Linked DNA regions of Homo sapiens. The protein of the gene in region 2 interacts with the protein of the main gene of each other region in a biochemical or structural test. Each region holds a gene or a part of one and is shown on either strand. Other genes may lie near its edges. The genes, in order: PKN1, CASP3, CTTN, PLA2G4B, PARG, NDUFS1 and MAPK8.

Region 1 (3,500 bases), on a different chromosome or scaffold from region 2:
TTTTTTTTTCAGTAGAGATGAGTCTTGTTATGTTGCCCAGGCTGGTCTCAAACTCCTGGCCTCAAGTGATATTCTCCTGCCTCAGCCTCCCAAGTATCTGGGATTACAGGCATGAGCCACCAGGCCTAGCTGTCTGCTATCTTTTTAAAATGAATCCTCCCCTCCATAACTTTTCTCCCACTGTAAAGTTTTGCATTTGACATTGAAGCCTTTAATCCAGTTGATTTTTTTACATGGTGTGATGTGAGGCAGGGATCCAAATTCAATTTTATTCTACATGGAAGTCCCAGCCACATACTCCTAAGGATTTATTTATTCATTTATTTTTTGAGCCAGAGTCTCTCTCTGTCACCCAGGATGGAGTGCAGTGGCACAATCTCGGCTCACTGCAACTTCCACCTTCTGGGTTCAAACAATTCTCGTGCCTCAGCTTCCAAAGTAGCTCAGACTACAGGCGCACACCACCATGCCCAGCTAATTTTTGTGTTTTTAGTAGAGATGGGGTTTTGCCACGTTGGCCAGGATGGTCTTGAACTCCTGACCTCAAGTGATCACTGGTCTTGGCTTCTCAAAGTGCTGGGATTACAGGCGTGAGCCACCGCGCCCAGGCACTCCTGAGGATTTACCCTAGCCAAATGCATGTGGGTATACATCAGGAGATGCATTTATATAAAGTGTATGTAACAGTCCAAAATAGAGGCATCCCACAGTCCATTAACAGGAGAATTAATATTTTAAAACTGCTATACCATCTTAGTAGCTGAAGTACGAAATTGCTGATATTTAACTATTTTTTTGCTTTCAGAAAGAGGCAATTCGATATGGCTCAGTCTAACATAATGGATTACTAAACAGGAATAAATATGAATTAACTATAGCTTGTCACAACAAAATGGATGAGTCTACCAAAACAATGCTTTTTTTAGTTTGGTTTTGTTTTTTGCATTTTTTTGTAGGGTGGGGTTTCACCATGTTGCCCAGGCTGGGTTCAAATTCCTTGGCTCAAGCAATCCCTCCACCTCGGCCTCTCAAAGTGCTGGGATTACAGGCATGAGCCACTATGCCTAGCCCCTAAACAATGTTGAATGAAAGAAGCCATGTGATAGAATAGTCTGTATGAGCCTGTCAATATAAAGTTCTAATACCAGGCAAAATTAAACAAAAGTTTTTGGGGATGCAAACATGGGGTTCTACAACTACAAATTATAGCAAGGAAATGATAAAAGTCGGGAGAGTAGCCACCTCTATGGCAGAGGAAGGAGATGGAATTGTGGAGGAGACAAGAGGGGGCTTCTGGAGAGCTGGAAATATTCTATTTCTTTTCCTTTTTTTTTTTTTTTAAGATGGGGTCTCGCTCAGTTGCCCAGGCTGGAATGCAGTGGTGCAATCACAGCTCACTGTAGCCTTGACCTCCTGCGCTCAAGCAATCCTCCCACTTCAGCCTCCCAAGTAGCTGGGACCGCAGGCACAAGCCACCATGCCCACGCCTGGTTAATTTTTGGTTGGCTTGTCTTCTCTTTTTTTCCCTTTAGTTTTTTTTTCTGTGACACAGATTCAGGAGGGCCTGATGACATGTACCCCCAATTTTTTTTTTTTTTGAGACAGAGTCTTGCTCTGTCACCCAGGCTGGAGTGCAGTGGCGCGATCTCGGCTCACTGCAAGCTCTGCCTCCCAGGTTCATGCCACTCTCCTGCCTCAGCCTCCCGAGTAGCTGGGACTACAGGCGCCCACCACCACGCCTGGCTAATTGTTTGTATTTTTAGTAGAGTTGGGGTTTCACTGTGTTAGCCAGGATGGTCTCGATCTCCTGACCTTGTGATCCACCCGCTTCGGCCTCCCAAAGTGCTGGGATTACAGGCGTGAGCCACCACACCTGGCCATATGCCCCAATTTTTAAATTATTTGTAAAGACAAGGTCTTGCTATGTTGCCCAGGCTGGTCTTGAACTCCTGGGTTCAAGTGATCCTCCTACAAATACCAAAATGCTGGGATTCCAGGCATGAGCCGTGGCACCTGGCTGCCATATTCTATTTCCTAACGCAGGTGGTGGTAATATGGGTGTCTGCTCTCCTGTTACTCTTCTCCACACTCCCTTTTTTTTTTGTACATACGTATTAATTTTCTTTCTTTTTCCTTTTTTGCCATGAGATTACGAATCAAATTTTCTTTTAAAAAAATTATGGCCAACATGGTGAAACCCCATCTCCATAAAAATACAAAAATTAGCCGGGTGTGGTGGCGCACGCCTGTAATCCCACCAGCTATTTGGGTTGGCTGAGGCAAGAGAATCGCTCAAACCGAGGAGGCAGAGGTTGCAGTGAGCTGAGACGGTGCCACTGCACTCCAGCCTGGGCAGCAGAGGAGAATCTGTCTCAAGAAAAAAAAAATTATGGTAAAATACATGTAACATAAAATTTACCATCATAATCACTTTAAAGTGTCCATCCAGTTCAGTGGCATTAAGTACATTCACATTGCTGTGCAACCATTACCACCATCCATCTCCAGAACTTTCACCTTACAAAACTGAAACTCTGTCCACATTAAATAATAAACTCCCCATTCCCCCTCCCTCTACTCCCTGGCATCCATCATTCTACTTTCTGTCTCTATGAATCTAACTACTCTAGGAACCTCATATAACTGGAATCATACAATATTTGTCTTTTGGGGACTGGCTTATTTCACTTAGACTAATGTCCTCAAGATTCATCCGTGTTGCAGGATAAGACAGGATTCCTTTCCTTTTTTTTTTTTTTTTTTTTGAGACAGTGTTTCACTCTGTCACCCAGGCAGGAGTGCGGTGGCATGATCTTGGCTGACTGCAACGCCTGCCTCCTGGGCTCAAGCGGTTTTCCTACCTCAGCCTCCTGAGTAGCTGGGATTACAGGCATGTGCCACCACACCCGGCTAATTTTTGTATTTTTAATAGAGATGGGGTTTCACCATGTTGGCCAGGCTGGTCTCGAACCCCTGACCTCAAGTGATCCACCTGCCTCGGCCTCCCAAAGTGCTGGGATTACAGGCATGAGCCACTGCGCCTGGCAGGATTTCTTTCCTTTTTAAATCTGAGCAATGTTCCATTGCATGGCTGGCCCACGTTTTGTTTACCCATTCATCTATTGGTGGATCTGGGTTGCTTCCATTTTTGGCTTTCATAATGCTGCTATGAACACAGGTATACATATCTCTGAGACCCTTTTTTTTTTTTTTAAATATTTTTCTATCACTATTTTTAAAACTGACAAATAAAAATTATATATATTTATCATGCACAACATGTTGTTTTGAAATATGTATGCATTATGGAATGTCCGAGGCCCTGTTTTTAATTCTTTTGGGGATATGCCCAGAAGTAGCTTTGGATCATATGGTTACTCTTGTTTTTTTGTTTGTTTGTTTGTTTTGAGATGGAGTCTCATTCTGTCACCCAGGCTGGAGTGCAGTAGCATGATCTCTGCTCACTCCAACCTCTGCCTCCCGGATTCAAGCAATTCTCC
Region 2 (3,500 bases):
CTTTGAAATGAAATTAACTACTCAGCAATTCAGAAGTCCACAATAAATTCTTCCTTTTAAATGGTAAGAGAATTCTAACTATTTTGAACATGGTGAACAAAATTTCTTCAATTTTGTAGCTTATAAGATACTTCATAATATAAGCTCATCAGTGTTATAGCCAAAATGATGTCTTTCACAGCGGTTTAGGTAGTGAAAAACACAAATGTCTAACAATAAGGGTTTGGTTAGACAAGCTATACTAACTTATATAATGGGATATACTATGTTGTCATTTTCACAGATAAAATGTTGCCATGGGAAAATCATCAGTTTAAAAAAATAAGACTAGAAAACAATACGATCCTATAATACATACACACATCTGTCACACTCAGAGGAAATGCGTTTCTCTGACTCTAACTTCCCAACAATTTTAAGATAGCATTACAACATTTATAGTGCCTTCAAGGAAAACCCCCAAACATTATTACTGTTCATCAGGTATTCTGCTATGGCTAATCTCTAATCCTTCCAATCACCATGAGAGTCATATTATTACTAGTTTCACTTGTGCAGATGTGGGACATGTAGCAGAGTTAACAAACCAGTCCAAAGTGACAAAGCTATGCTGGGCCTGTATCCAGGGCTCCTGGGCTTTCTACCACTCCTTTAGAGAACCTTCCACATTAACGTACAGATTGACTGCATGATGCACTCAGATTTCAAAATGCTAAATCTTGGTGGGAAACATCCCTCAGAATTGAGTAAATTTGATGGGTATGAAGATTAAATACAGAAAGTCTACATGTATCTCCAAAATGTTGTTGATTATCTCAGCTGTGTGACAAGGTCACTGGCTTCTGGTGCTGATGTGTTGGCTGCCTTTTAATTTTTATTTATTTTTATTTTTTAGACAGGATCTTGCTCTGTGGCCCAGGCTAGAGTACAGCAACCACAGCTCACTGCAGCCTCAACCTCCCAGATTCAAGCTATCTTCCCACCTCAGCCTCCCGAGTAGCTGGGACTACAGGTGCGCACCACCACACCCTGCTACCTTTTTTCTGTTTTGTAGAGATGGGATTTCCCTGTGTTGCCCAGACTGATCTTGAACTTTGGTGCTCAAGGATCCTCCTGCCTTGGCCTCCCAAAGTGTTGGGATTACATGTGTGAGCCATGGCGCCTGGCCCAACACCAGCCTGCCAGAGATCTCATGAGAACCTGACCTTTACATTGCAAAGTAGGAAAGGAGCTCACTGGGCAAAACCCAGACTGCTGGTCTAAATATGTGGGGGGAGGTGCTGGTGGTAGTGGAATAATATGCTTGTTTTTGGTTTTTGAAACAATAGAGCCAACAGTGCAAAATTCTATAGGAAGGAGGTATCCTAACTAGAAATGTGAGGCAGAATATCTAGAAGTAAATTTTCAAATATGCGTAAAGCAAAAGTAAACAAGGTGTTGTGTTTTTAAGTTAATGGTTGAAGGTGGCATCTCAACTTATAGCCAAAAGCAATAAAACTGATGCCATTTAGAGCTCCATTTTCAACTATTCTCTTCTCACTCCTTATAATTAATCTGACACAAACCCTGCTATCTTCCCAGTGTAATCTGGCTTCCTTCCATTTCCACCACCACTCTGATAGGTACTGGCCCACCTTAGATCTACTACAGCTTCTCTAATTAAAAATTAACTCTAATATGATTAATAGGCCAATTCAAAGAATTATCATAGCATCAATTTAAAAGGGAAACAGCCATAATGTTCATTCATACAGTAAATTATTCAAATTAAGTGAATGGTAGTTTTGGGGATGCAGTATTATATAATCATTATAACAGATATGAAAATTATGCAGCAATATGAAAAATGCTATTCCTTTAAGTGAAACAAGCAGAAGACAACATTGCTTATACGTTATGAATAAAATCAAGCTTTAAAAAGAACTGCCAAGAAAAAATAACAATACACCAAATATTAATTAGCTTTTTTGGCACTGTGAAGGATTTTATTATCTATATTTCTAAAAAAACATTCTCAAATGTAGTACTACATTCAAGTTGTACATAGTACAGAAATCGAGAGGGGGATCTGGTGGCAAGGCCATGGTAAATTTAAAGCAAGCAGTTTTAGTAGTAGAGACAGAAAATGGAAAAAGACTCAAGAAGGAATGGAAACAAATGAAGAGTACAAGCTTAAACTACATGTATTCAAAATTTAAGGAAGAAGGGAAGGAGACAAAATATCAAAGGAATCAAAAGGAACAGAGTAAAAGAAAGGTCTCTCTAAGATGGGGAGCTTCGTAGGGTAAGGGAAGACAGGCAACAGAGCACATGAGGATACAAGGAAGTGAAGCAGAACAGAAGATGGATTCAGAGCTTGGGCTTTGGAGCCACACAGACCTAGCTCTGCCGCCATACTGTGTGACTGCGCGAGGTCTTTAACCTTTCAGAATCTCATCGTTACTTTCCAGGTTGTCATAAATTAAATAAGGCAATGCTTGTGATATCTCTTGCAGTTTCTGGGGAAAAAATAAATACTACCACTTAACTGTTTTTTTGAGAACCTTCCATTGGGATCAAAGAGGAAGCAGAAAGAAGAAAAAGAAGCAAGGGCTACAGAGAAGTCAGGGCAGAGGCAACCAAGCATACAGATAGGAGGCCAGCAAGAGGAGGCTATGAAGTTGGGCAGAAGAGTGACGCGTTCACAGTGTATCAGAGGACCTGTAGGTCCTGCCCAATCTCTACTTCACAGCTAGTCTGTGTCACGGTTTACTGTCTAATACCTCAATAATACTGCTTTTAATATTATATCAAATGTAAATGGCACAAACATTTGAAAAGGATTAAAAATTATGTAAGACACATACCAGTGCTTTTATGAAAATTCTTATTATTAATTATTATACATAAACCCATCTCAGGATAATCCATTTTATAACTGTTGTCCAGGGATATTCCAGAGTCCATTGATTCGCTTCCATGTATGATCTTTCTGTTTAGAAATCAAATAATAGCTTTACAAAGGTAGAAATGACCACGCCTTCTGTTTATATTAGTGCAATTTTTATAACTCACAGTAACAGTTAACACTTGTTGAATGTTATAAACCAGGCTGTCTTCATTTCAATTTCACATCAACAGTTATACAGATGAGAAAATGACCTGACGTGAGGCTAAGTAATGTGCTAAAGGTTATGCAAATATTGTGTCACAGCCAAGAAGGAAGGAAAGCATCTGTTGGACTTCAGAGTTCAGGCTTTTAACTTCCATGTTTTACATTTTCCTCTAAATTCTTCAAAATTTCATCAAATACCTTTATAATTTAAAAATTACTTATTAACTTTGTGAAATATTTTATCCTTTGAGGTAAGAGTAAAAATCTTAAAAATTACCCTGAAATGATGGGAAATCAACAAAATGCAAATATAACTCAAAGCACAATATTTATCACAATTCATAAATTATTCCTTAAACCCCATGAGCTAAACAAATTAGTAATTTATTAATATATAAAAGCATTA
Region 3 (3,500 bases), on a different chromosome or scaffold from region 2:
GCCAGCAGAAACCCACGGGCCATCTAATTCTCAGTCCCAGCCAGGACTGAGAAAACAGACGCGGTATAGGAAGGCCAGGCCTGCCGGTGTGTTCACCATGGTGGTGAGTGCCCACATGCCATTTCCTTCCCGATGATGACCCGGTCCTCACCACCGACACTCCAGTCCTGCAATAACCACGCCCACACAGCAGGTTAGGAGACACGCCCCTGCCCACACTGTTGCCTGGGGGTAGAGCCTGTCTTTGTTGGGTTAATTTGGCTGATTTCTTTTTTTAGGCCTCATCTCCAAGGCCACACAAGGCACCCTTGGGCCGAGCGGCCACCCTCCTGCCTGTGCTGCTCGACCCTGGCCCTGCCTGACAGCGGCTTCACCACGTGGCTCCAGAGCAGCTGAGCCTACAGACAGGGCATCGCCAAAGAATCACATTCAACTACAAAGGTGCGCAGTGGAACACCTCTCTATCTATAACCACTGCCGCTTCGGAGCCCCAGCGAAAATTCTGAACTGCTTATCACCGACAGTGGCTTTAATCAATGTTTCTGACCAGGGTCCACCTGATGTCACCGGCAGTGACTGAAAGAAAGCAATGCCGACAGCTCAGAACCGCGCACCCAGGAGATCTGGGAAGAGCCAGTGGTGGAGAGCTGCTAGCCAGGGAGAGTAATCGGGCAGGGAGAGCGACTCCACCCTCAGCACAGGCACCAGGAACCACACAAGGGCTGAACTGCACGGGAGGGGCAGGGTCGGAGCTTCCTTGAGGCAGATGGCGCTGGCTGCCAAGGGGAGGGACTAGAGGGGGAGGCCGGTTCCTGACAAGCTGCAAGGCCTCACTTACCACATCCCCCCAGGGCCCGGCAGGGTAAAGGCAGCAGGCAGCAGCGTAGCCAAGGAGGGACAGTCGGGTGGTGACAAGGCCACGGCCATCGAGGCCCAGATCCCAGACCCGGCCTGTCTCCAGGGCTCTCTCTGGGCTCCTGAACTACCATGGTCTGGAGTGTGACCCCTGTAACTGACTGGCTCCTGGGCGAGCAGAGATGAATGCATAGACCAGGATGATGGCCATGGGATGGAGAAAGGGCAAGGGCTGGGGACAGGAGAGGTGGTTACAGGTAGAGGGTGTGGTTAGCGCAGAGGTGCTGGCGGGGAGCAGGAGACCCAAAGTCAGGGATGGGCGGGGCATCGGCAGGCGGCTCCGTAACTCAGGGATGGGGACGGAACACTGGGGGACCCATGAGAGGGGGTCAGCAGCACAGGGAGGGGCCGGACAGCATGTCTGCAGCCACACTCATGAGGGGCTGCAAGGCTGGAGAGCTGAATGGGGCAGGCATAGAAGGCAGATTGTGCGGGAGGCAGGGGCTCAGTGATGAAGGAGGGCAGCACTGCCATTAGGGAGTGAGGCGGCGTCCTGCACAGCAGAGAGCAAGTGGGGTGAAGACACCCCCATCTGATTATCTGATAGCAGGTGACTACAGCAGGGACTGCAGTGACAGTGGCCAGACTACAACAGGCTGCAGAGGGGTGAAAGGATGGCATGTGGGCCTGCACAGCTATCCCCTGACAGCACTGAGGCATGTCACCCACCCCCCAGGCGCTCCTGGCCCACCCCTCTCCGGGCGTGGAATGCAGCGATGCCCTCTACACCCACGCCACACTGCCTGCCTGCAAGGGCTTCCTCCACTCCACAAACAGGACCTGGGCTCTGGCAGTAAGTCACTCACGCTCATTCAAACACCAAAGACACCAACCTCATAGACGGGGCTCGAGGGCAGCCTCTCCTCGGTTGGCTGAGGTGCGGGCGACACAGGGGGCGTTTGCGTTTTGGCTCTGGCTTGCTCCTGTGATTGAAAACAAACAGCAATCAGAATGCTGCCATGACACTCTGCACTGTCACGCCTGCCGTGTTTCAGAAGATCGTGTGCAAGCTCTAGGCATGCTCTGGGGAAAGGAGTGGAAAACACCCACACCAAGGCTGAGCTGGAGCACCAAGCCTCAGATCCCACCAGCACCCCAGCAGGATCCGAGGGGCAGGGGAGCTGGAGCACCAAGTCTCAGATCCCACCAGCACCCAGGCAGGATCCGAGGGGCAGGGGAGCTGGAGCACCAAGCCTCAGATCCCACCAGCACCTAGGCAGGATTCGAGGGGCAGGTGTGCTCTGAGGCCGAGATCACACAGCCAGTGACGCGACAGTGCCGGGACTGGGCCACAGCTCATTCTCGCCCACACACGATTAGATAGTTTAGGCACAGATTTGGGAGTCTGAGTTGATGCTGCAATGGGTTGAGACTTTGGGGACCTTAAAATGGGCTGAGTATGTTTGCACATGGGATGGACATGAAGCTTTAGGGGCCAAAGGATGAACTGGGGTAGGATAATAGCCCCTCAAAGCTGCTGACATCGCAGTCCCCAGACCCCATGGGGAGGGACTGTGTATGTGATGAAACTAAGGGTTCTGTGATGGGGAGAACTCTGGACTGCCTGGGTGGACCCAATGTAATCACAAGGTCCTGAGAGGAGGGAGGCAGGAGTGTGAGGGACAGAGGAGGGGCGGTGACAACAAAAGCAGAGGCTGGAGATGGGAAGACAGGGCCGAGGGGCCACCAGGAGGAACACAGCCCTGCTGACATCTTTGAGGACCTCTGACCTCCAGAGCTATAAGACACTAGCTGTGTGCTGTGTGTGGTGGTGACTACGGCAGCAACAGGAAACTCACTGACAGCCTGTGGGCTCCAGTGCCAGACGCTGAGTCTGAGGGTGAGGTGGCAGGCACAGGCACACTGGCCAGGGAGCTGCCCAGGCAGGATCTGAACCCCAGGTGTCCACTCCAAACCCCTTCCCTCCTCTCCCTCTGCAGGCGGCCTTGCTCTAACGGGAACAATGGTAGTGCTGTCTTGTCTTTTTGAAGAGAAAACCACCCCTGGTCTTGAGACCCTAGCACGGTTCCTGGCATCTATGGCCTTGCTTGACCCCAACAGGACAGTTGTAAATTCCCACGTCACCTGATGCCATCCACAGGTTAAACACCCAAAGTAGCACGTCCTGTGTGGCCCTGCAGGGGCAGGGCCTGGGGTGGATAGGAGAAGCCCAGGCTTCCAGACAGGCTGGGCCTGCCCCACACTGCAGATGCCCCAGCTGCAGAACCACACCTGGTAACTTCACACACACACATCTGTAGGCCTCAGGCTCTATTCACAACCCCCCTGATCCAGCTGAGCACAAGGAAAGTCCTTGTCAGTGGCAAGCCACCCAGGCTAGACCCAAAGCACCCAGACACAGGCTCGTGCTCCGCCCCTGCCAGGGGTGCACTTCTGGCATCTTTCTCTGGGAGCGCTTCTCCACAGCCCAGGGGCTTGGGTGAGCGGGGCTGGGCTGGCCAAGCAGAAGCAGGCCCCGAGAGCAGGCTGCCTCTGCACAGAGTCCCCTCCAAACCCCAAACTTCCACCTGGGAAAGGAGGGGCTTCCAGAGGGGGAGGGGTGAGAAGAGACTCAGGCTGACATT
Region 4 (3,398 bases), on a different chromosome or scaffold from region 2:
ACTCAGGGCCTCCCGTTGATCTGAGAGCTTGTGATCATGGGGCTGGGGAAAGATGCGTAGAACCTAAACCCACAGCGGCCTGGGTGCCCAGGGCCTTTCCCACCCTGCTGTCCAGCACCGAGCCCCAGCTCCAGCCCTTGCCCTGGCTCTGCCCCCAGGCCGCAGCCCCCGCACCTCATCATGCAGCAGCGCCTCGTTGATGAGGGCCCACAGGTTGGTGAAGCAGCTTGGGTAGCCCAAGCGGGCACGCTCGGCCAGCTCCTGCCGGTACCGCTGCAGCTGGCTGGGGGCCAGCACACCCAGCTTGTTCTTGGTCACCTGGGTCTTCAGCAACTCAGTGGGCCCTGCCAGGTCCTTCTGAGACCACTCTGGGTCCTCATAAAGGTTGGCCAAGGCCCTGGGAAAAGCCAAAGCCAAAGCCAGAGGGCTGTCACTGAAGGACCCCGTCTAGACCCCACGTGCCCCGGGCTTTCTAGGACAATGGCCTGGCAGGGACCTTCCCAGGGTCCCCTTGAGCACGTTTCTCCCTGGCACATTCATTCTCCCAGCCCTTCTAGTTTTCTCAGAGGCCTAGGAGAACCCTGGCACCAGCACCCCCTGCCACACAGGGTCCAGCATCAGCCTGCCCCCAGCTCACCAGGTGGAGCCCGAGGCCCCGGTGATGTAGGAGACGCAATCCAAGAGGCCCAGCTCCTTCAGGCCAGCCAGCTGCCCATACAGGGAAGTCATTGCCCGGATCCCACCACCAGTGGCCATAATAGCTACCACTGGGATCTGGAAAAGAAGAGAGCCAGGCCTGTAGAGGCCCTAGGGATGGGGAAGGCCAAGTCACAGGAAGAAGAGGTAGCAGGTCAAGTGGCCACCCAGCCCACAGCTAAGGCCTGATCACAGGTCTTGGGACCAGTTCTCAGTCAGCCCTGGGGGCCAGAAACAGCCTTTTGAGTGCCCAGCTCCTCCAGTCCTAAGGGCTCCAGGAAAAAATGGCCCAGGCAAGTTCTGAGCCTCATCTCCTTGCCCTCAGCCCCCGAGCCTGACGCTCACTTTCTGGAAGCCCCAGGGCCCGCCTCAGAATTTTCCCAAATTGCCATCACTCCCCCAGGAGACGGCCCAGGCTAATATGAACCTCCTGAAGCACCCTGGGCCAACAGGCCTCATACCAGATATCTGTCTCCCTCCTCAGACAGGCTAGGCTGAGAACCAAGAAACAGAGTAGGAAAGCCAGCCCTATGAGGTAGCTCCCATGTGGGCTCCAGGTGCCTCAAGCAACACTCTGCCTGTACCAAGTCCCTGCTAACACCAGGTGAGAGGAAGCAGGGTGGGGACAGGCAGCTACGAGCTCTGGTCTAGATCGGGGACAAGCAGCTCCAGTGTTCAGCACCAGGAGCTAGGCCCAAGCAAGCCCGGGGACACCCCATCCAGCCCAGCCCCCAAACCTCATCCTCCTGCAGGTCTCCGTCCAGCTGCAGGGCCTGCCTCAAGGCCGCGGCCACCACCTGCTTCCTCCTGCTCAGGAAGGCCTGCTCCTCTGCACAGGGCCCGAAGCCCAGTCGCACGGCCAGCTCCCTCAGTCTGGCCGGGGAAGGAAGAGACTGTGAGACAGCTCTCAACCCTCCCCAGAGAATGGAAAGCTGGGTCTGCCTCACCTGTAATACCTACTGCCCTCCCTCTTCTCCCCAACCCTCAATGCCACTCCCGTGTCACAAGACTGAAGTTTGACACCTGGGGAGAGTGTGTCCATGTGGACATGCTTGGGAATGCAGCAAAGCAGACTGGCAGGACCCAGAATGCCGTGGCCGAAAGAGGCTGCTTGGGGTCCCAGGTGCAGACAGGCCCCCAGGCAGGCCCCATACCATAGATCCCCCCCCTCCAAGTCTCGTGTTCTGTCCCTTACCCACGGAGTTCAAAGCACTTTGGGAGGCTGAGGCAGGCATATAACTTGAGGCCAGGACCAGCCTGGCCAATGTGGGGAAACCCCATCTCCACTAAAAATACAAAAATTAGTTGGGTGTGGTGGTGGGCACCTGTAATCCCAGCTACTCGGGAGGCTGAGGCAGGAGAATCGCTTGAACCCCAGAGGCGGAGGTTGCAGTGAGCCAAGATCACGCCATTGCACTCCAGCCTGGGCGACAGAGAGAGACTCCATCTCAAAAAAAAAAAAAAAAAGGGCAGGGGGCGGGGCAGAAAAGGACCAATAATCCTGTGTCTGTGAGGTGAGAAGCCACTCTCTCAAGACAGAGGGCCAGGGTGGGCGACAACTCTACGAAGATCATTTAAGGTCCAGCCATAACAGCTTCCACCCAAAAGGGCGCAATTTCCCCTCTTCTCTCCCTTGGTTTTCCTGCCCTCTCTGCGCCCCAAACCATGTTACCATTTTCCATCCTTGCCTCCCTGCGTTTTCCAGCCAAACATTTATCAAGTGCTCCCCGGGTGCCTGGCACTGGGCCGGTCACTCGCCCCTCTGACCATAGGTGCTAAGACTCCTCCCAGTACTCCTCCCAGTACTTCGTGCCCCCTCGAGCGCAAGCCTGAGCCCCTTCAGAGAGCATGAGGATGAGGGGCGGCTGTTTCTCCCCCTCACTCCTCCAGGCCTCCTCCAGCCCCGCACCCTGGTTGTTTTCCAGGGCCTTGCCCAGTCCCCAGCCAGGCCTCTCACCCTGCTTCTTTTTTCAGCTCCACTCTCATCAGGGGCTCCTGAAAACCGTGAAGGCCCCAGTCACAAAAGGTCGGCCACCTCCACCCAGCTCTGGTCCTCTTACCCTGATCCCCGGCGCACCACCCCCGCCCCGCCACCGTCTCCACAGGCGCCAGGCCTGAAGCAGGGATGCTCAGAGGACACTCCCCAAAGAGCCTGGCCCCAGCACCTGCTCAGGGTGTGACCCACGGAGAAGCGGGAAGCAGGCCCCTCCCTTTGTGGCCTGGGTCCCAGCCCCATCCAGGCGCCTTGCTTCCTTCCCTGGGAGGCCAGTACCTGGGACGTGGGGAAGACAAGCCTCACCACTTGACCAGAGGGCAGGGCACTCAGTGGCGCCTTTAGTTGCTCCTCGGGGGCATCCTGCAGGGGACAAAGAATGCAGACCTAAGAATCTTTACGCTTCCACTCCTAGCAAAGACCTCACCAAACTCCCGCCGGCAGCCATAGAGTTATGGGAGGGACGGGAAGGGGAGGCCAGCATGGGCCCACACATGCTGCCAGGGTGCCCACTCTGCCAGGTGGAGCAGAGGTCAGACTGGGAGGAGGTGCAGAGGGAGGGAGGAAGTTCTGGGGGCCCCACCTCGAGGGAGCGAGGCACACTACCTGCAGGCGAATACTCAGCTCCTGCTCCCAGCAGGCTGGGCAGTGGAAGCGGAAGGTGCCAGTGCCCACAGAGGCCTCCTGCGGACCCTCACAGGACCCAGGA
Region 5 (3,500 bases), on a different chromosome or scaffold from region 2:
GATGTTGGACTTAGTAGACAAAGAATTTACATGAGCTATTTAAAATATACTGAAACAACTAAAGAAAACTATGTCTAAAAAACTAAAGTATAAGAATGATGCCTCTCAAATAGAGAATATTAATAAATAAAGGGATAGAAATTATAAAAAATAAACAGAAATTTGTAATTGAAAAGTACAATAACTGAAATAAAAAATTCACCAGTGAGATTAAAAGCAGTTTAGAGCAAGCAGAAAAAACAACCAGTGAACTTGAAGACAGGGCAATTGAGACTGAGCCTCAGGAACAAGAAGAATAAAGAATGAAGAAAAATAAACAGAGCTTCTGAGACCTGTGGAACATCAAGTGAATCAACAAACACGTAATTTGGGAGTCCCAGAAGATGAGGAAAGGGGAAGAACAAACATTTGAAGAAATAATGGCCCAACATTTACCAAATATAACAAACATTAGAGAGGTTCAAAAAACTTCAAGTAGGATAAAGTCAAAGAGATCTGCATGTAGACACACCATATTCAAACCATTGAAAGTCAAAGAGAATCTTAAAAGCAAAACATAAGAAAATATACTCTTCTGAAGGTTGTCTACAAATCTATCTGAGGCACAGTGTGGCTTCAAGATTAGACTTTGGAGTCGGTTTTGTCATGTATGTCTTTGGAGGTAATGCGGTTGGGTACACATTTTATATAACTCATGGGGAGGGTTTTTCTCCTATTATAATTTTTGGGAATAACAATAAACTAAATTCTACAACCCAGGTGAGTGTTTAGACCCCGAAACTCATCTCCAAGCAGTAACAGATTCTAAGTGGAAATAAAAAATCCACTTTTTCAGGAAAAAAAAATAGTACCAGCAACTCATGGTGCATTAACGGCACTTATGTGGGAATATTCTTTTACGTACTTGAATAAAAGACTCAACTTACATATGGTGCCTGATTAAGAGTTTCTTAAGAGATATGAGGTAATCATCATTTTTCTTGATAGCTTATTCAAAGAAAATACTGTTACATAGTGATCTCAGTCTGAAGAAACAAAAAAAAATTAAATCTCTATAACAGACCTAAAGCATACACGTGACTAAATTTCCCCCCTCCTCCTCCCATATTAGCGTAAAGAAATCAAGAAGGACAAGAAGAAACACCAAGATAATCAGACTTTTTTTTTTTTGAGATGGAGTCTTGCTCTGTCGCCCAGGCTGCAGTACAGTGGCGCGATCTCAGCTCACTGCAACCTCTGCCTCCCGGGTTCAAGTGATTATCCTGCCTCAGCCTCCTGAGTAGCTGGGATTACAGGCACCCACCACCGTGCCTGGCTAATTTTTGTATTTTTAGTAGAGACGGGGTTTCATCATGTTGGCCAGGCTGGTCTTGAACTCCTGACCTCAGGCCATCTGTCTGCCTTGGCCTCCCAAAGCGCTAGGATTACAGGCATGAACTATCGCGCCTGGCCATGATAACTGAACTTTTTCTTTTAGGATTCAAAATAGGGTAAACAAAAGGTTACTGATTTCTCTAAATACTGTTCCTGTGCTTCTTATATTTACACAATGTCTTCATACTAAAGTACAAGAAACCACTTGAAAATTATTTTTAATAGAAACAAATCACTCTCAAATGGAAGAATTACAACAGAATACATACTAGAGGCATATCACTATGTTCTTCTTAAGAGCATTATTATGTCATAAAATTTCAAACTGCCAAGCGTGGTGGCTCACGCCTGTAATCCCAGCAATTTGGGAGGCCGAGGCGGGCGGATCACCTGAGGTCAGGAGTTCGAGACCAGCCTGACCAATATGGAGAAACCCTGTCTCTACTAAAAATACAAAATTAGCCGGGTGTGGTGACGCATGCCTGTAATCCCAGCTACTCGGGAGGCTGAGGCAGGAGAATCGCTTGAACCTGGGAGGAGGAGGTTTCGGTGAGCCGAGATTGCACCATTGCACTCCAGCCTGGGCAACAACAGCAAACCTCTGTCTCAAAAAAAAAAAAAAAAAAAAAAAAATTCAAACTGTGGGGTAACTGAATAGTTTTTAATCCCTGTTCCTCAGATAAAGATGCCACGAAAGAAAGAAAAGGTAAAAATAAGATGTCTTACTTAAGATTAGGAAAATAAGGCTGTAATAATTTCAAAAACTAAGTATAAATTAATGGATAAAAATATTGGGACTGATGCCCATGGAAGATAAAAGCTATACTGGGTAGTCTCTAGTCTTCATGACAGATATTCACAGATGGGGAAGACTACCCCATTTTCCAGGCTTCCCAAAACTAACCTGTGATAATTAGACATTCATTGTGATCCAGCACCTCAGTGAAGAGCCGTGAAATAATCAACTCAGGATTGATTAAAAAGCGGATTTCTTCTTGCACAAGTCCTGCACTGGTTACACCACCTCCAACAAAACGATTTGCAAAATCCACCTGTTGGGGAAATGTGACATATTAAATAATGGTCAAAAATACCTACACATATGATCAAGAAGCACATAGTCTCTAAGCTCTCATCTTTTCCTCTCCCATGAAAATCAATCCCCAAATAAGTAATCTTCCCAGGAAGGGCAGATTTTGGTTGCTTAAGCTCTTTCCACCTCACTGCAGTTAACATCTCTGCACATTTTTCTGGATCCCAGAACCAGAGAAGCAATCTGGAAAATGGAGCTTTTAGGCAAAATATTATGTATCATACAGACTCTTGTTTATAAACCTATTTGTGTCTCATGGGCCACAAATCAAGGGAGGTCTTTATCTGGGAAGGTTTCAAAGTCATTCTCCCCCATTCACTACTCAACTTCCCTTTATGTATTTCACGTGACTTTAATATAATTAAACTTTTCTTATGTAATATGGTAACCAAACACTTGCCCTAAAGAACTGAAAAGTTTAGTAATCAACTTTTTGGGTAACCTTTTCCAACTTTATTGTAAGAATAAAGAGATCGAATTTTTGTCCTTCTAAATTCAACCCCAAACCCCAAACTACATGAACATTACAAACTACTTTTTAAAAATATAACTAAGGAAAAAAGGAAGAAAGAAAACCCAGTATAGCAACAAAGATTCAATTAAAGTAATATTTCCAATTAGGTTGGAAACTCTTAAGCTTTATGTGGAGTAGTATGATGGGATCCCCAAATGCCTACTAATAAAGAAGAATTACACAATCCTCCAGAGAAAGCAAACTCAACTTGCTGGCATTATTTCCGTTTGTCCAGTGTGTCCAGCACTATGCCAGCCTCATGAAGCAGTATGTAAGAAATAGCAACCATCTTTTCCTTAGTGAGACTATCTGAGGAGTTAGATCACACACACACACACACACACACACACACACACACACACAACTTGTGTATATACATAGTCATACACACAAGTAAAATAGGATTTACTAAATACCATGAGGCTTATATTCTTTCAAACTATTTTAAAATATACGATTTCTTAAAACTTCAGTGTTCTCTAAAGCAACTGATACTAAATGACAATCTGAAGCCTATTT
Region 6 (3,500 bases), on a different chromosome or scaffold from region 2:
TGAAAGTGAACTTCTTCCCTGCAACCCTTTTCTCTACTAAAAATGGCAGGGCGTCAGCACTTTTAATGTGCTACTTGGCAACTCTACATCCTGGTTATATATTATACAGCCATTTGGAAATACTGACAACTATAAATCACCTTTAATTTCTAGATATGTTACAATTATATGACATGTGTTTGTAAAGCACTTCTATCTATGTGTTTCCAGTTTTGAAATGAAGAGAATCAATTGTACAAAAGAATTAAATTTATAGATAGAAGTAAAGAGGGCTAGGTTCTCCACTACGATATTGATTCTAAATAAAGTTTGCTGCAAGATTTAAAGTTTTCTACCTTCTACAGCATGGTGTAGAATTTTAGGTATCAAGTACCTTAGGGGCTTTCTCAATTTCAACAAGGCACATCCTGCAGTTTCCAGCAACAGACAACCTTTCATGATAACAGAATCGAGGGATCTGCATGCCAACCTTCTCACAAGCCTAGAAGTAAAAAAAAAAAAAAAAAAAAAAAAAGCATTAGAATAACCTGACTTCACTGCTGTTATTGCTGAAACACACACATACAGCATCTTATTACTTCTATCTATCTATCTATCTATCTATCTATCTTAATTCATTCTTATTTCAGTCCCTTTCTTTGCCTTTGATTCTAACCCGTCTCCTCTGAAGCTGCCTCAGAGGATCTCAGGATCCTTGGCGTGACTTCACCTTATGTGGAAGAAACTGGATAAAGTATCCTTCCACTGTGCTGAAGACTTGACTTCCCACATCCATTTTGAACCATTGTCCACAATGTCCCCAGTGGTTTCATACCTGGACTTCTTCTTTGCCTCGCTCCCCTCCTTTGGATTAGAGATTTCACTACACATTATCTAGCTGGCTATCTGTCTTTGGCTCCTATATGCTACCCAGGACTCACCTCCCACTGTGGCTGAAGGTTTTCCCAGTTTCTGTTTGCCCAGTAAGGGGGATTATCCCTGCTCTGCCAATTATCACCTACCCTGCTCTGCAATTTCTTCCTCCTTTTAGTCTATAAACATGTTCAAATTTCCTCTAGAGTTAGTTCCTCATCCTCAGCCTTCATTCTAAAGCAATCTCATCAATTTCCAGTGTTTAAACTATTTAGTTAGCAAAAATGTGTTGAGTCTTTCCTTTGTGCAGGATGCAGGTATAGTAGTGAAAAAGACAGATAGTGTCCCAGCCTTCATCCTAGCTGACATTCCTTATGCTGATTATGTCCAAACCTTAATCTGCAGCCATGTTAGACCTCCACTTCTCCAAGCTTCAGATTTACAGGTATTTGCATGTGTATGTTCCACAGACAGCTTAAATTCAAATGATTTCTCTCCCCTCTATACACTCCAAAATAACCTAACAAATGCAGAAAACCACAAGAATTCCTCCGGTCTCTTTGAGTTCTAAAGAACTATTTGTCTGTGGCTCTACTGAAACTTCTTTTGTGTTTTTTTTTTCTCACTGTTAAAGCAATATTGGGAAGTTCTGTACGACGGGGGAAAAAATCCCTCGGGTCTTCATCATTCCTGAAGGCCTGTCTACATTTCATTCTCCCTTGAATCTACTCTCTTGTTTTCATTCCCATTGACACTATCTATTTTAGGGCTTTTGTAGTATCCTGTCCCAATAATACAAAATGCTTTTTCCTTGTCTCTTATTCCAGTCTTGCTATTCTCCAAATGATCATCCTCTACAGTCGCTGTCACCCTGTTTAAATAGGCAACAAAACTCCTGATGGATCAAAATATAAGCTCTTCTGCATAGCAGATACTGTATTTCATGACTGGACCTTCCCTTCCTCAATAACTTGATTTCCTGTGATCTCATCTTCTACTTATACCTTATGTTTCATCAATATTAAACTATTTGAAGCTTTCAAAATATGACAAGCTATCTGCCTTAACTTTTTCCATAGGAAATGCAAGCATGTCGTTCTTGTTCACAATATGAACACACCTGTTCATCCTTTAACACCTCCTCAGGGATGACCTGAGGCACCCAATACCTCTTTCTACTACCTCCTATCCCTGCCACAACTTTTCACTGTACCTTGAACATACATTTATATCATATTTTGTGCTTTCATGTCTGTGACTGGCAGATAGTCTAGAAATGACTGCTAAAATGAACAAAGAACATTTAGATCTGTGACAACTTACAAATGGAGTGAAGCATGACTTCTCTATGACCAATTTATTATTTCTGGAGGAATATGAAGAAATATTTAGAGCATGAATGTAAGCACATGCTACCCTCCATTTACCTGCTTTGTAGGATATATTCCTATGAATATTACTAACCACAGAAAGGTTATATGAAAATGAAAAGCATTAAGCAGGCCCACAACAAATGGAGGTTATTTTTTCACAAACTTACCTATAGTAACTAATTTAAGTTACTTCAAATTTCTTTTCTTTTTTTTTGAGACAGAGTCTTGCTCTGTTGCCCAGGCTGGAGTGCAGTGGCACAATCTCGGCTCACTGCAACCTCCGCCTCCTGGGTTCAAGCAATTCTCCTGCCTCAGCCTCTCGAGTAGCTGGGATTACAGGTGCGCGCCACGATGCGCAGCTAATTTTTTGTATTTTTAGTAGAGAAGGGGTTTCACAGTGCTGGCCAGGCTGGTCTAGAACTCCTGAATGATCCGCCCGCCTCGGCCTCCCAAAGTGCTGGGATTACAGGCATGAGCCACTGCGCTCGGACTTCAAATTTCTTAATGGGTATTCATTTGGAATGAAAAGTGAAACAAAAGAACTACCATAATTCACTAAAAATGCCACAAACAAATATATGATAGCTCACTTTGAAGTGCCAAGATTTAAAATGAAATAATTTTAATATAACTTTGCTGTGTATAGTTATTTTAAAGAATTATTTACTAATAATCAGTATAAAGGAAATAAATTAGTATTTTTAAAAAAATCAGAACACACACACAAAATAGTTAGAATGTATGCCTACTTGGAGGACGGTCGTTCCCGGTTCCACCATGACAGACTGACCATCAACAAATACTTCAATCAAGTTGCTTGCTGCTGTGGCAGTTGTTCGAACTGACCATCAAAGATATTGAAGCGAAAAACAGATTAACAGTTTATTATAGCAGATGATAATGGATGAATTGACTCTAACTACAAACCTAAAATTTTTCATTCCTTATTATTCCTCTGTATTGCTCTGGATGCAAACTTATGGTTGTCTACTTTTGATAGCAGAGTAGTTTAAACTGAAACTTCTTTCTTCTTCTTTTTTTTTTTTTTTTTTTGAGAGGGAGTCTTGCCCTGTCACCCAGGCTGGAGTGCAGTGGCGCCATCTTGGCTCACTACAACCTCCACCTCCCCGGTTCAAGCGATTCTCCTGCCTCAGCCTTCCGAGTAGCTGGGATTACAGGAACTCACCACCACGCCCGCTAATTTTTGTATTTTTAGTAGAGACAGGGTTTCGCCATATTGGCCAGGATGGTCTCAAACTCCTGACCTCAAGTAAT
Region 7 (3,500 bases), on a different chromosome or scaffold from region 2:
AGGAGGAAGAATGGGAAAAGGCATATTCACAAGGTTACAATAAGTGAGTTTTAGGCCTTGGCCTTCAGGGTCCTGGAGTGTAAAGACTAGAGGAAAGGAGACCAAGAAATCCTAACCTTACAACTTAGCAAAAAACTGAATCTTTTTTATAAGGGTCAGAGCTTTAGAAAATTTTTTTAAACCTAAGCTAAACAAAGAATGGCAAAAGAAAATGCCACTTTTATCGAAGCCTTTATTTTTATTACAACTGATTATTTTCTGTTAGTGTAGAAAACTCAGTAAAACAGGATGTGTTCTAGAAATATTGTCTAGGAGATATAATCATGTTTTCTGATAAATTGACAGAAAAGGAAAAATTTTGTATATTATTATAGCATTGTGTGCAGTTTGCAGTTAGAGCCACTATGGATAGTAATTGTCATTATTCTTAGTTGCTTATCATTTTATTTAGAATTTGTGAGTTTAAGCTTCCATTTTAAGGTAAAATCAGTTAGTTTGAACACACAATAAATAAGGTTAATAAAGCTTATTTATTGATCATTTCTGTCCACCTACAATCATTGCCTTTTGCAGGGTGCCTGTGAGATATAAAATTTATAACTGCCACATCCTTTCTTAGGAATTTTTAAATTTCTATTTTCTTGTAATATGAATATGACTAATGTATTGAACATTAGTTATGGAGTATTTTTCTTAGCTACTTGATATTAGATATTGATCAGTGGAATAAAGTTATTGAACAGCTTGGAACACCATGTCCTGAATTCATGAAGAAACTGCAACCAACAGTAAGGACTTACGTTGAAAACAGACCTAAATATGCTGGATATAGCTTTGAGAAACTCTTCCCTGATGTCCTTTTCCCAGCTGACTCAGAACACAACAAACTTAAAGGTACTTTTTACAAATATGTACATTTAATCCCATTTGGGGTGTGTAGTGTGTGTGTATGGGTTTGTGTGTTTATATGTATTCATATTCTTATGGGACATGAACCCAAGGTTTTCTCTGGATGGTGGGGAAAAAAATGAGGTTTTTGTTTTTTTTTTCTTTAATCTTATATATTTTAATCATATGTATAAGATAATTTTACAGTAATATTTTTAAAACATATGCTTTTTAAAAAATCTCAAATTGCTGAAAGTTATTAATAATTTGAGAATCTTTACAAATATATGTACATTAACACCATTATGTTTGCAGCCAGTCAGGCAAGGGATTTGTTATCCAAAATGCTGGTAATAGATGCATCTAAAAGGATCTCTGTAGATGAAGCTCTCCAACACCCGTACATCAATGTCTGGTATGATCCTTCTGAAGCAGAAGCTGTAAGTTATTTTCTTAATGTTTACAGAACATATTGCATTCTTAGAGTTAGAATGACAGTTAGGTTTGGAGGAGACCTTTTAATTTTAAATAAAAATGTAGATACATGATGATGATGTTTTTCTGTTTCTTCATGAAGACTACGTCAAATAAACTAATGAACATATTCGAGCCCCTCCTACACAAAATAAAGTTACCTCCCACTGTTTTTTGCAATCTTGCCTGGATACCTAACCAGAGAACTAGGATGTTGAATGCTCTGGGGGAACATCCTAACTCAGGTATAAAACAAATTACTGTATCCAAAGGAAAACAGAATTCTGTGATCTGTGATATAAATAAAATGTGGCAATTTCAAGAGCTAGAAGAAAAGAAAAAAGACAGTTAAACATTTTATTTCCTGCAATGAAGGAGTCTTCCTAAACTATTATGTCTGTATAAGTAAGTTGATGATTGATCAGTCTTGATCTAATGATATATTTTTATAAGTCATCTGTGTGGCTAATATTTCAAATAACTACAGAGTTAAAATACTCCCAGCATACTGACTTGGTTATTATTGCCTTGTGTTTTTCAGCCACCACCAAAGATCCCTGACAAGCAGTTAGATGAAAGGGAACACACAATAGAAGAGTGGAAAGGTACATTCGTCAGATTCTTAGAGGGAAAACTGTGAAGGAGCTTCTGGTTTTTATATGGTGATTTATTATCATGTTAGAGAAATTTGTGACTTTAATATGCATAACCGAAATGTGGTAATATTAATATTTTTACATAAGTAGAAAGTAAGTCTGCTTCCTTCCTTAACTTAATCTTAAGTTCCCAAGTTTCCCACCCCAGACACAGACACATTAGTGCTCTGTCTCATATTTTTTTCCATGGTTTGTGAATACACAAATGTGTTTAGTGTCTCCCACCTCTCCTCTTCCACCCTTTTAAAATCACGTATGGTTGTGTACGGTGTATGCTATATGTACTTGCTTTGTTTATTTATTATATATTTTTTTGAGTTGGAGTCTCGCTCTGTCACCCAGGCTGGAGTGCAGTGGTGTGATCTCGGCTCACTGCAAGCTCTGCCTCCCGGGTTCACGCCATTCTCCTGCCTCAGCCTCCTGAGTAGCTGGGACTACAGGCGCCTGCCATCACACCCGGCTAATTTTTTTGTATTTTTAGTAGAGACAGGGTTTCACCATGTTAGCCAGGATGGTCTCGATCTCCTGACCTCGTGATCCACCCGCCTCGGCCTCCCAAAGTGCTGGGATTATAGGCGTGAGTGCTTTGTTGATATAATCAGATATCTGGAAGGTTATTCTCTTTTAGTTCACGTATCTGCCTCTCTTGCTTTAATAACTGGTTAGTGTTCTGCTGTATGAATATGTCACACTTTATATATCCATCTCCCTCTTGGTGACCATTTAAATTGTGTCCAGTCTGTTGCTGTTAGAAACAACTCTGCAATATTCATGTTCACATATGAGAACATGCCTGGAAGAAAAATCCTGGAAGGAGATGTTCTGAGCCAAAGATATTTTTCAGTTATTTCCAAATTACTCTCCAAAGAAATGGTAGTAGTGTACACTTCCGTCCATGTTATATAGGAGTCTCTCTTTGCCCTCACCCTTGCCTACAGAATGGGTTAATTTTTAATATTTGTAAATCTAATGTAGTTTTATTCTATTTTATGAATGTGGCTGAAATTAATCATGCTTTGATAGTCATGGAAGTTTTCAAATATTTCTTCAAAAGGTGCCCTGGGACATGTGGGTCAGGTAATTTTTAGGTCCCGTTTACTTCCATTTGTGTTATTGTCCTTCAGTGTTTTGACCACTTTTGTAACTGCGTGACTTTGAGTAAATCACTCCCCCTTCATCTCACCCTCCTACACTGCCCCCTGCATTTTACCTCATCTTAAAATAGAGGCAGAAGACCTGTTATTAAGAGTTGTCTCTAAATCCTGGGAAAGGAAAGGGGACTGGGGAGGTATAAACATGAATAAGTGACCCATCTATAAATGTATTTTGCTAAGCATGAATTTGATTCTTTCTTAGAAATTGAAGAGATTTAGAGATTGGTTTTCTCTGAACTTTGGGAAACCCATGGTTAGCAGAGCCCGTGATAAAGTTAGAAGAATGACAAAATGATAAAATTGGATAGAGTCTGCTGCATTTGAATAT

The links.
Region 1: of the proteins of CASP3 (region 2) and PKN1, one has a biochemical effect on the other in vitro, tested with the Homo sapiens proteins (one study listed by BioGRID).
Region 3: of the proteins of CASP3 (region 2) and CTTN, one has a biochemical effect on the other in vitro, tested with the Homo sapiens proteins (one study listed by BioGRID).
Region 4: of the proteins of CASP3 (region 2) and PLA2G4B, one has a biochemical effect on the other in vitro, tested with the Homo sapiens proteins (one study listed by BioGRID).
Region 5: of the proteins of CASP3 (region 2) and PARG, one has a biochemical effect on the other in vitro, tested with the Homo sapiens proteins (one study listed by BioGRID).
Region 6: of the proteins of CASP3 (region 2) and NDUFS1, one has a biochemical effect on the other in vitro, tested with the Homo sapiens proteins (one study listed by BioGRID).
Region 7: of the proteins of CASP3 (region 2) and MAPK8, one has a biochemical effect on the other in vitro, tested with the Homo sapiens proteins (one study listed by BioGRID).

What each region holds. Positions count from the first base shown.
Region 1 is NC_000019.10:14,453,806-14,457,305, reverse strand, and holds part of PKN1 (serine/threonine-protein kinase N1), read right to left. Parts: intron 1-3,500. UniProt on the Homo sapiens protein: PKC-related serine/threonine-protein kinase involved in various processes such as regulation of the intermediate filaments of the actin cytoskeleton, cell migration, tumor cell invasion and transcription regulation.
Region 2 is NC_000004.12:184,632,448-184,635,947, forward strand, and holds part of CASP3 (caspase-3 isoform a preproprotein), read right to left. Parts: intron 2,972-3,500; coding exon 2,847-2,971; intron 1-2,846. UniProt on the Homo sapiens protein: Thiol protease that acts as a major effector caspase involved in the execution phase of apoptosis. Following cleavage and activation by initiator caspases (CASP8, CASP9 and/or CASP10), mediates execution of apoptosis by catalyzing cleavage of many proteins.
Region 3 is NC_000011.10:70,429,529-70,433,028, reverse strand, and holds part of CTTN (src substrate cortactin), read right to left. Parts: intron 1,839-3,500; coding exon 1,749-1,838; intron 1-1,748.
Region 4 is NC_000015.10:41,841,847-41,845,244, reverse strand, and holds part of PLA2G4B (cytosolic phospholipase A2 beta), read right to left. Parts: coding exon 3,296-3,398; intron 3,053-3,295; coding exon 2,969-3,052; intron 2,692-2,968; coding exon 2,654-2,691; intron 1,570-2,653; coding exon 1,434-1,569; intron 775-1,433; coding exon 638-774; intron 398-637; coding exon 175-397; intron 43-174; coding exon 1-42. Other genes in the region: JMJD7-PLA2G4B protein, read right to left, coding at 1-42, 175-397, 638-774, 1,434-1,569, 2,654-2,691, 2,969-3,052, 3,296-3,398. UniProt on the Homo sapiens protein: Calcium-dependent phospholipase A1 and A2 and lysophospholipase that may play a role in membrane phospholipid remodeling.
Region 5 is NC_000010.11:49,855,028-49,858,527, forward strand, and holds part of PARG (poly(ADP-ribose) glycohydrolase), read right to left. Parts: intron 2,427-3,500; coding exon 2,279-2,426; intron 1-2,278. UniProt on the Homo sapiens protein: Poly(ADP-ribose) glycohydrolase that degrades poly(ADP-ribose) by hydrolyzing the ribose-ribose bonds present in poly(ADP-ribose). PARG acts both as an endo- and exoglycosidase, releasing poly(ADP-ribose) of different length as well as ADP-ribose monomers.
Region 6 is NC_000002.12:206,149,445-206,152,944, forward strand, and holds part of NDUFS1 (NADH-ubiquinone oxidoreductase 75 kDa subunit, mitochondrial isoform 1 precursor), read right to left. Parts: intron 3,067-3,500; coding exon 2,975-3,066; intron 482-2,974; coding exon 374-481; intron 1-373.
Region 7 is NC_000010.11:48,425,177-48,428,676, forward strand, and holds part of MAPK8 (mitogen-activated protein kinase 8), read left to right. Parts: intron 1-711; coding exon 712-894; intron 895-1,203; coding exon 1,204-1,328; intron 1,329-1,903; coding exon 1,904-1,967; intron 1,968-3,500. UniProt on the Homo sapiens protein: Serine/threonine-protein kinase involved in various processes such as cell proliferation, differentiation, migration, transformation and programmed cell death.